Linked DNA regions of Homo sapiens: region 2 is linked to region 1. The links come from fine-mapping of genetic effects on gene expression. A gene starts in region 1. The other region holds a variant in brackets. All regions are shown on one strand. Distances are between the middles of the regions.

Evidence for each region. PIP is the estimated chance that this variant, and not a neighbour inherited with it, causes the effect.
Region 2: its variant is the best candidate, but not a certain one, in a credible set for the expression of NEXN in whole blood (INTERVAL, PIP 0.86).

What each region holds. Positions count from the first base shown.
Region 1 is chr1:77,885,963-77,890,962 of GRCh38, forward strand. NEXN (nexilin F-actin binding protein) reads left to right here and starts at 2,662. Exons shown (of 13, transcript NM_144573.4): 1 at 2,662-2,797. It overlaps NEXN-AS1 (NEXN antisense RNA 1), which reads right to left and starts at 3,577. Exons shown (of 3, transcript NR_103535.1): 1 at 3,506-3,577; 2 at 1,638-3,306. RefSeq lists an enhancer at 2,607-2,666 and a silencer at 2,907-3,046.
Region 2 is chr1:77,863,218-77,868,741 of GRCh38, forward strand. It overlaps MIGA1 (mitoguardin 1), which reads left to right. Exons shown (of 16, transcript NM_001416120.1): 13 at 677-811; 14 at 3,121-3,174. Among named protein-coding and RNA genes, the nearest start is that of NEXN, 23 kb to the right of the region's middle. The variant C/T (reference allele first, on the strand shown) is at 2,324.

The DNA.
Region 1 (5,000 bases):
GCTGGTCTCGAACTCCTGACCTCAAGTGATCCACCCGCTTCAGCCTCCCAAAGTGCTGGGATTACAGGCGTGAGACACCATGCTCAGCCAACTCACTTCTTTAAATCACAGAAATAAATATGTAATTATAAATTGATATGTATAGGGGCAGGGCACAGTGGCTCACACCTGTAATCCCAGCACTTTGCGAGGCCGAGGTGGGTGGATCACTTGAGGGCAGGAGTTCAAGACCAGCCTGGCCAACATGGTGAAACCCCATCTCCACTAAAAATACAAAAAGTAGCCAGGTGTGGTGGCACGCGCCTGTAATCCCAGCTACTTTTGAGTCAGGAGAATCGATTGAACTGGGGAAGCGGAGGTTGCAGTGAGCTGAGATCGTGCCACTGCACTCCAGCCTGGGCGACGGAGCGAGACTACATCTCCAAATAAATAAATAAATAAATAAATAAATAAATAAATAAATAAGCAAATAAATAGGAATATATATATATAGGGAAGAGAAAGGTGGGATGAAAGGTGAGGTGCAAGGTGGGGAGAAAGGTGGGATGCAAGGAAGCCTTCTCCGAGGAAGCAGCATTTAAGAAGAGATCGGGAGGATATGTTGAAGTTAGGTGAAGGGGAAAGTGGGAGAAAGGATTTCATGCAGGGAACAACTTATACAAAGGCCCTGCAGCCAGACTGCCCATAGAAAGTTTCATGAACTGAAGAAGGCCAAGGTGATGGCATCAAAGAGAGCAAGGGCACAAGCAAGACTACCAAGACCACCTATCACTATCCGTAGTTCGGTACATTTAAATAATTTTAATTACCAATTTTGAACTTTTCTGTAATCGAGGAATGAATGGCTTACCCTCCTTAGAAAAGTTTCCATCCTGAGTAAATACTGTGGGGATGGGACTGGGGAACAGAGTTATATTTGAGTAGAAGGCCTTTTGTGTGTACGGGTGTGAGAGAGAGAGAAACAGAGAGAGAGAGGGAGTTTCACTCTTGTTGCTCACGCTGGAGTGCAATGGCGCCATCTCAGCTCACAGCAACCTCAGCCTCCCGGGTTCAAGCGAAGTGGGTTCTTCAACCTCAGCCTCCCAGGTAGCTGGGATCACAGGCGCACGTCACCACGCCCGGCTAATTTTTTGCATTTTTAGTAGAGATAGAGTTTCACCATGTTGGCCAGGCTGGTCGCAAACTCCTGACCTCAGGTGATCCACCCGCCTTGGCCTCCCAAAGTGCTGGGATTACAGGCAGGAGCCACCGCGCCCGGCCTTTTTTTTTTTTTTTGGAGACAGAGTCTCATTTTGTCACCCAGACTGGAGTGCAGTGGGATGATCTCTGCTCACTGCAACCTCCGCCTCCTGGCTTCAAGTGATTCTCCTGCCTCAGCCTCCTGAGTAACTCAGATTACAGGTGTGTGCCTCCACACTAGGCTAATTTTTTGTATTTTTAGTAAAGACGGCCTTTTGCCATGTTGGTCAGGCTGGTCTTGAATTCCTGACCTCAAGTGATCCACCCGCCTCGGCCTCCCAAAGTGCGGGGATCACAGGCATGAGCCACCGCGCCCAGCCCAGAAGGCCTTTTCAACATCCCTGAAATATAACCTGAGCACCGCTGTCTGCTTAGGGCCTGAAGGTGGAAGTGGTTACCTTTATTCTTTATCTGGATGTCATTTCGATTTTTTTTTCAAGTGCAGTGAAGAATTAAAGATCTCGTCCACCAAAAATACTCCGAGTGTGCATTTCGGGTTTTAATATGGTATTGTCTGATGGGTTTGACAGGCTGGCGGTCCAAGTTGAAAAAGGTCTGTGGGTGTCTAATAGTCAAAGATGCCTTTATGAAGCTTTAGAAAGACCAGATATGGTTTGCCTTCAATTAAGAAAAAGGTGGAATATAAAGATATTTGTACTTATATAAATATATTCCTTCTTTTCTTCTCCTCCTCCTCCTCTGCCTTCAACTTTCTTCTTCTTCTTCTTCTTCTTCTTCTTCTTCTTCTTCTTCTTCTTCTTCTTCTTCTTCTTCTTCTTCTTCTTCTTCTTCTTCTTCTTCTTCTTCTTTTTTAACTCTCCTTTTAGAGTTAAAGACTGGAGCTAAGAACAGGGGAGCAATAGACAGATGAAGTGTTCCCGGATTGCTGCCCCACGCTCTTTGTAATAAAGGAAAACTTGGCCAAAGGTCAATGCTTAGGGTAGTAGAAGATATGTAGTGGCTTGGCTTCTTGACTGGAAACTAGGACGGGTAGAGTAGCTGAGAGAAGTGGGCCCCAGAGCAAACTGGTTGCGGGTAGGGGGAGCCAGCTTCAGCCCGGTAATGAAGCCCATTTCAGCCTCATTCCTTTCCCATGGCGGAGGCAGCCTTCCTTCCCCAGGCCTGGCTGGAGGTGGAGGCAGGCCCAAAGTTAGGGGGTCAGCTCGCGCACCTAGGGCCGGGAGACAGACAAATTCTGGCGGAAAGTTGGCAGCCACGGTCCCCCTCCCCTGCTTTTCTCCTCAACTCTCCACCCCCACTCCGGGTGATAACGGCGGAGGTGGGGGGTTGGGGGAACTGGCCTTGTGTTTTGGAACAGCTGCAGCCGGCGCTGGGCCCGCCTGGAATGCGGGAACAGGCTGCACACCAGGACTTTTATGGAAACTTGCTGCTGGAGACGGCGGCGGCGGCGGCGGCAGCGGCAGCCAGAGGACTCCCAGCGGCTGGAGCAGAAGTGTTAGCGGCCAGAGCTCCCAGACCCCTACCCACAGCCAGGCGGGACGCGCACAGTCCCTCCACGCGGAAAGAAGTACCTTCGCCGGTCACCGGCTCCTGCAGGGTGAGAAGAGTTGGGGGAACGTGGGCTGGGGGGAGTGGAGACGGAGGTGTCGGGTCCCCTGGTGGGGGCGGGGGCGGGAACGGCGGCTGCAGAGAGGCGCTCGGGGTCTGCGGCTTCTGGCCGTGCTCCGCTGCAGCTCCGGAGGGCGCCGGGCGCCATACAGCTGTGGTCCGCGCTGGCCCCGGCCCGGGCGAACCCTGCCTTGGAGCCGCATCCTGCGGGCTCGGCGGGGTGCCTACCAGGGGCTGCCCCAGGGTCTGAAAGTGTCGGCCGGCCTTGGGCTTCTGGTTGCAATGTCTTTGCCCTGCTCCCCTGCGCCTTGTCGGCTGAGTTTCGGGTGCGTTCCCTACTGTAGGGAGGGAGCCCTCTGTGAGCGGAGTGGGTGCCGATCCCTCGGCTGAACCCTTGGGGTCCTTAGGGAAGTTCAGTGCCGTCCCCCACCACTTGCCCCAGCCGCGGTCTCCGTCTCTGCCAGCAGTGCCAGTTAAGAAATCCTTTCTGATCGGTCTCTGTGGAAGATGGGGAGAAATATGATTTAACAGCCTATTACTCCCCCCCCACACCCCCGCATATCCCCCCACTCCTGTCTCCAACCCTTTTTTTTTTTTTTTTCGTGATTCTGCCCGAGGTGGGATGCTGGGGGTTGAGCAACTAGGGCTGGAAGTTTACGAAGTTTACGTAGTTTAAGTGAGTGAAGAATGTAGTCACCTCTTGAGAACTCCCTTTGCCTATATGCTTTTGAAAACGCCAAACCATTCCAGCTGTTTGTAAATTGTGAAACGTTCTACAAATGCATTAGCATTGGCATTTATAAAGAAAATGACGAAGTTGAGAGGTTATAGTTGGTTACTGCAGTGACTTAGAGATGCTCATTTTATAGTTATTAAAGCACAACGTGAACCAAGTTGGCAGAGAGATAACAAGGTAAAAATAGCATAAGGATATGTCCTAACAAAATGTCCTTGGTGAAGACACAGGTAGAGAAAAGAAGCCATAATAAAGAAATTAGTTCCCTGACCAAAACAACGGGAATATCATTCATCGTTAAATTTTGTTAATGAATTCATGTAGCAGCGGCCCATTGGCCTTCGAGTCACAACATAACTATGTCTTAGGTAATGTGATTAAATAAACTTAAGTATTTATACTTAAGTTCATATCTTAGTCACACGTTATTTATATCTTAGTCACACGTTATTGAGTGGACCACATAATTTCCCCCGCTAAACATTATCCTTTACAGGTTAAACTGCTGCAGTTAGAAAACTTTGTCTCAAATTCTTTTGAGTTTGGGGTATTGTTAAGAAAAAATGCATAATTAATCAAATGAGAGAAAGGTTTTTTGGGGGGAGGTATAATTTGTATAAGTAAACTTTGATTAACCAATGTAGCTGTTTAAGTTTCTTCTTCCTTACAATTAACACCGTATTTTTGCAGATATTTTATATTTTGACTAATGCTTCTGAGGAACAATTTAAAGAAAAATGCATGCAATTATGTAGTTTATCTGCAATTCCCTTAAAGAATTCTAAGCTAAAACCACAACAAAATTATTTTAAATCCAGTTTTCCTCATCATAGTTACAATGTAATCCAGTTTTAATAAAAGATTCATATTTTAAAATCCATTTTCAATTGAAATGTAATGAATAGCAATTGTTCCTGCTCACCTTAAAATGGAATTTGTGCTATTTTTGAAAATTTGACATGTAAGGCTGATCATTGTCAAAATGTATGTCATCTTGAGATGACTATATTTAGCATCAACAAAGGAATGCATTATCTAGGTTTTTGAACAGTCTTTTTCCCCTGAAATTTCACTTGAAGTATTTAGGTTAGGGTTTCATTTTTGAGCAGAATAAAAACTAAATATGCATATTTGGAAGACATTAATTGGGGATTCAGATTGCTTAGAATCTGAGCGGCCTATAATGACATACTTCATTTATTAAAAAAAATACCTGTTATCTTTGAAATACCCTAAAAGACAAAAAAAAGGGGGATTATTTAAATATGAGAGTTGTGCACACCTAAAAGAAAGAAAATAATGCAGTGAATGTGGAAAAGTATGTAACAGACAGGTAAAAGTCTAAACGTTTTTATAGAAGAGAGGACTGTTATTTTATAGTTATGTAGGCCACACACACACAGAACATCTTGGTAGTTTATAATTTGGAGAGAAAATGATTTATAACATTCTTAAC
Region 2 (5,524 bases), 22 kb before region 1:
CTTTCTGTCACCCCTCTTGGCCTAAGTGCCTGTTGTCTTTTCTCTGGGCTACATCAGTAGTCTTTATATTTCCCGATTCCCTGCTCACTCCTTTCCTCCCTGCATTCATTCTTTCCCCTGTTTCATTCTCCACATTTCTGCCAAAATGATACAGCACACTATACTTTTTCCTTTATTGTGCTTCACACAGTTCATAATTGGATATTTGCAGGATTATTTTGTTGCTGTTTTCCCCACTATACTCTAGGCGTCTAATTTGCTTACTCTAGAAGTTTGAGCACTTGGTACAGCATGTAGTATGTAGAGTGTGTATGTATGAATGAATGAAAGAGCAAGATGTTCATGATCTGGTGGGGAAGACAGGCACATATACCAGTAACTAAATAACAAGGCAGAATGAGCATCCTGGATGTTATAATAGAAGCGTGAACAAAGGACTCCTAGAATAGAGAGGAGGAGAGATTATTTTCACTTGAGATCTAGGAAGGAGCAGCGATAATGTGAATTCGTAATTTCTAGTGGCGAGCTTTCATATTTATCTCTCCTTTTATTTTTTATTTTTGAATAAGCTGATTAAAAAAAACCCCTGCTGTTATAAAACCATAAAGCCCTGGCTCAGATTTTATTTCAGCTCTATGTAATAATAATTTCTGTTTCAACTCATAATTTAATGCAGGTGAAAAATCTAAATTTTTATGATGTTGTTCTGGATTTTATATTAATGGACTCCTTTGAAGATTTGGAAAACCCACCCACATCCATACAGAATGTAGTAAATAATCGATGGCTAAACTCATCCTTCAAAGAAACAGTAAGTGGTGGTTAACCTTTCTCAGCCTTTTAAGTTTGATTAAAAAGTGAGGCTGGGCGCAGTAGCTCACGCCTGTAATCCCAGCACTTTGGGAGGCCAAGGCAGGCGGATCACCTGAGGTCAGGAGTTTGAGACCAGCCTGGCCAACATGGTGAAACCCCATCTCTACTAAAAATACAAAAAAAAAAAAAATTAGCTGGGCATGGTAGCGGGCACCTGTAATCCCAGCTACTCGGGAGGCTGAGGCAGGAGAATTGCTTGAACCTGGGAGGTGCAGTGAGCTGAGATTGAGCCATTGCATTCCAGCCTGGGCAACAAAAGCAAAACTCCGTCTCATAAACAAACAAACAAACAAAAAAGTGGTTGGCCAGGCGCGGTTGCTCACACCTGTAATCTCAGCACTTTGGGAGGCTGAGGCAAGTGGATCATTTGAGGTCAGGAGTTCGAGACCAGCCTGGCCAACATGGTGAAAGGCTGTCTCTTTTAAAAATACAAAAATTAGCTGGGTATGGTGGTGGGCACCTGTAATCCCAGCTACTCGGGAGGCTGAGGTGTAATAATCGCTTGAACCCAGGAGGCAGAGGTTGCAGTAAGCCGAGATCGTGCCGCTGCACTCCAGCCTGGACAACAAGAGTGCAACTCTATCTCAAAAAAATGTCAAAACTGGGTAGATTGTTAAGATTTACATATACATCTGTCTGTGAAATAATGTATGGAAACTGAGCTCATCCTTTGATATTCAGCTCAGGCATATACGGCATAACATCTTCAGATGAAATTCTCTTTTCAGCTTCTGTTCTTTTCTGTTCTCAAACCTGTTTGACATTGGTTTTTGTTGGGCTTTAAGTGTGCACCTGGAAGCAAAGTAGGGTGGATATATTTTATGATGCAGTTTGGATACCTTTAAAAAAATGTTCCAGTTGGCAATTTCACAATTATTTTGGAACTTACTGATATTAAACTTAAAAGCATTTTAAATAAATTCATTTTGCCTCAATTAAGTATGTTTTAATAATAAAAGGTACATGTTCTCCATTTCTGTAACTGATTTGGTAAAGTGACCTTGATCAAAGCTGGGTCATGCCAGAGTGGGGTCAGATTTTTCTTTCTTTTTTTTTTTTTTCCTTCCTGGAATCACCTCCAAGGGTCAGATTTCTTCAGGATCCACTGGGTGCTTTTGTCCTGTCATGGTTGTATTTCCTAGTTCTTTATTTGGATCAAACTGTTAGCTCTATTCACAAATATTCCAATAGTACTATTCTTGAAAAAAAATTACTTTAGGCCAGGTACAGTGACTCATGCCTGTAATCCCAGCACTTTGGAAGGCCGAAGCAGGCCGATTACTTGAGCTCAGGAGTTTGAGACCAGCCTGGGCAACATAGTGACACCTCGTCTCTATAAAAAAAATACAAAAATTTGCCAGGTGCAGTGGTGTGTGCCTGTGGTTTCAGTTACTCAGGAGGCTGAGGTGGGAGGTTCACTTGAGCCTTGGAGGCGGAGGTTGCAGTGAAC[C/T]GAGATCACTCCTTTGCACTTCAGCCTAGGCAATGGGAGTGAAACCCTGTCTCAAAAAAAAAGAAGAAGAAAAATTACTTTATTATTACACATAGAATATTTATTTGTGTATGTGAATTCTATATACACATATTTTCACTTTTTTCCCTTAAGGAACAGAACTTTAAAACTCTGAAAATTGAATCTCCTTTGTTCCAGAGTGCAGTCTTTTTCCTTTAGTGGCTTTGTGTTTAATTTTTTAAATATTATTTTACTTTTTTTTTTTTGCCCTTGCAACATACAACTTTGCTCATGATTTAAAAATTTATAAAAATGAAATACCTTTTCATTAATATTTTCAAACAATGTGAGGACCCTGACTAGTTTTGTTTTTTGTTTGTTTGTTTGTTTTGAGACAAAGTCTTGCTCTGTCGCTAGGCTGGAGTGCAGTGGCGCGATCTCTGTTTACTATAACCTCCGCCTCCCGGGTTCAAGCAATTCTCCTGCCTCAGCCTCCCGAGTATCTGGGTCTACAGGCATGCGCCACCATGCCCAGCTAATTTTGTTTTGCATTTTTAGTAGAGATGGGGTTTCACCGTCTTGGCCAGGATGGTCTCCATCTCTTGACCTCATGATCCACCCGCCTCGGCTTCCCAAAGTGCTGGGATTACAGATGTGAGCCACTGTGCCCGGCCGACTAGTTCTTATTAGTAATGAATGTATTGAACGTTTTAGACCCATAAACTTTGAATTTCTAATAAAAATGGAAATGTTTATATAGCTATATATAAATCTTTCTTTTCTCTGCATGTATTTAGGCTGTGGCTTCAAGTTGTTGGTCGGTGCTGAAACAGAAAAGACAACAGATGAAGGTAAAATTCGTTATGTCCTGAATTCCTTTGTTAAATCATTTAAGGATTCTGTCAAAGCAGCTTCTGAGTCACTTCTCCGGTGGGAATTGGCAGCTGTAGGAGGGGTAGGAGGGACTGTCCCTCAGGCTAGATGAGTGACTTACTGGTAGTGGGTTGGCTTCTTTTTTGAAGGCCTTCTTTCTCATCCTTAGTATTGAGGCATGCATGGTATTTCAGCTAACTGGGAGAGGGGTTTCGAGTTGGAAACAGCTCTGATAAGTTTTAGGTTTTTGTTTTTTCTCTTAATGATATTAATTTTTTTTTTTTTTTTTTGAGACAGTCTGTCTCTGTTGTCCAGGCTGGAGTGTGGTGGCGCGATCCTGGCTCACTGCAATCTTTGCTTCCCGGGTTCAAGCGATTCTTCTGCCTCAGCTTCCCAAGTAGCTGGGACCGTAGGTGCCACCACACCCGGCTAATTTTTTTATTTTTAGTAGAGATGGGGTTTCACCATGTTGGCCAGGCTGGTCTCAAACTCCTGACCTCAGGTTATCCGCCCGCCTTGGCCTCCCAAAGTGCTGGGATTACAGGTGTAAGCCACTGCACCTGGCCAGTATTTTTTTACAGTTCTTTAATATAGTGGATTCCCTTCGTTTAATCCAATTAAGAAATAAAGATTTGATTCTAATAGCTGCTTTATTCAGTTTGGAGCCCCTACAAATAAAAAGTCTCAGAGTTTATATCCTGCCTTCACGCCTCACACCCTGTAACCTGTCTTACCTGCTAAGCATTGTTTTCCTCATACACTCCTAGTAGTAAAGGGCAAGGACTCTGGAGTGAGACTACTGGGTTCAAATGCCACATACTAGCTATGTGACCTTAGGCAAGTTGCTTACCCTCTCTATGCCTCAGTTTCCTTATCTCTAAAAATAGAATAGTAATAGTATCTACCTCATAGTGTTTTGTTTTGTTTTAGAGATAGGGTCTTGCTCTGTCATTCAGGCTGGAGTGCCGTGGCATGATCATAGCTCACTGCAGCCTCTATAACTCCTGGGCTAAAGCAATCTTTCTGCCTCATCCTCCCTGAGTTGCTAGGACTACAGGTGCACACCACCATGCCTGGCTGATTTTTTATTTTTGTGTACAGATGAGCTCTTGCTGTGTTGCCCAGGCTGGCCTCAAACTCCTGGCCTCAAGTGATCTTCCAGTCTCGGCCTCCCAAAGTGTTGGGATTACAGGCGTGAGCCACTGTGCCTAGCCCTCATAGGGTTTCTTGAAGATTCAATGTGAAGTGCTTAGAACAGTGCTTGGCATAGTGCATTAAGCAAGTATTGACTGTTACAACATTATTATTTACCCAAGGACCTGTAGTATTTTATCATATCCATATTTTTCAATCTTATAACTTTGAGACAGTATTGCCAGTTGCAGTGATTTTAAAGTATAGTCCTCACAGCATCTTTAGAATGTGCTGGTAGAAATAATTCTGGAGCCCCTGTATTTGAATAATTCTTATTTAAAATGATTCCAGAGACCCATATTTTAAGCAGGTTTCCTTAATGATGATGATGAACTCTAACGTTAGGACTAGGAACAGACTTGTATACATGGGTTTGATTCTCACACTAGCTAGCATGATTACAGTAAGTTACTGACCATCAGCTTACCCTCAGTTTTCCCATTTGCAAAATGGTGTTAATGCCTACTTAATAGGACTGCGGTAAGGATGAAAGCGATGATATCAGCAAGCTTAATTTAAACATTAAACATTTAAAGAGTTTAGTAAGTGGTAGTTATAATAATAATGATATATTATTAACATGTCTAACTTTATTTTTCTACTTCTTAGAATAAATATTGTACTTTTTTTTCTTTTTGAGACGGAGTCTCACTCTGTCGCCCAGGCTGGAGTGCAATGGCATGATCTCAGCTCACTACAACCTCTGCCTCCCAGGTTCAAGCGATTCTTCTGCCTCAGCCTTTCAAGTAGCTGGGATTACAGGCGCTTGCCACCATGTCCGGCTAATTTGTATATTTTTGGCAAAGATGGGGTTTCATCATGTTGGCCAGGCTAATCTCAAACTCCCAGCTTCAAGTCATCCACCTGCCTTGGCCTCCCAAAGTGCTGGGATTTCAGGCCTGAGCCACTGCGCCCAACCTATAACTTTCTATATCCATAGATACCTATATGTCTCACCTCTTAGGAACTATTTCCTATACCTGAAATGCCAAATTCCCTCTGTACTTAAATAAATCTTACCCATCATTGAGCTCAGCTCACATTATTCCTTGCTGAAATTTATCTAGTCTGCTTCAGCCCACACTAAGTTCCCACTTCTCTGAATTCATAATACACTTCAAGTCTGTATGGTAT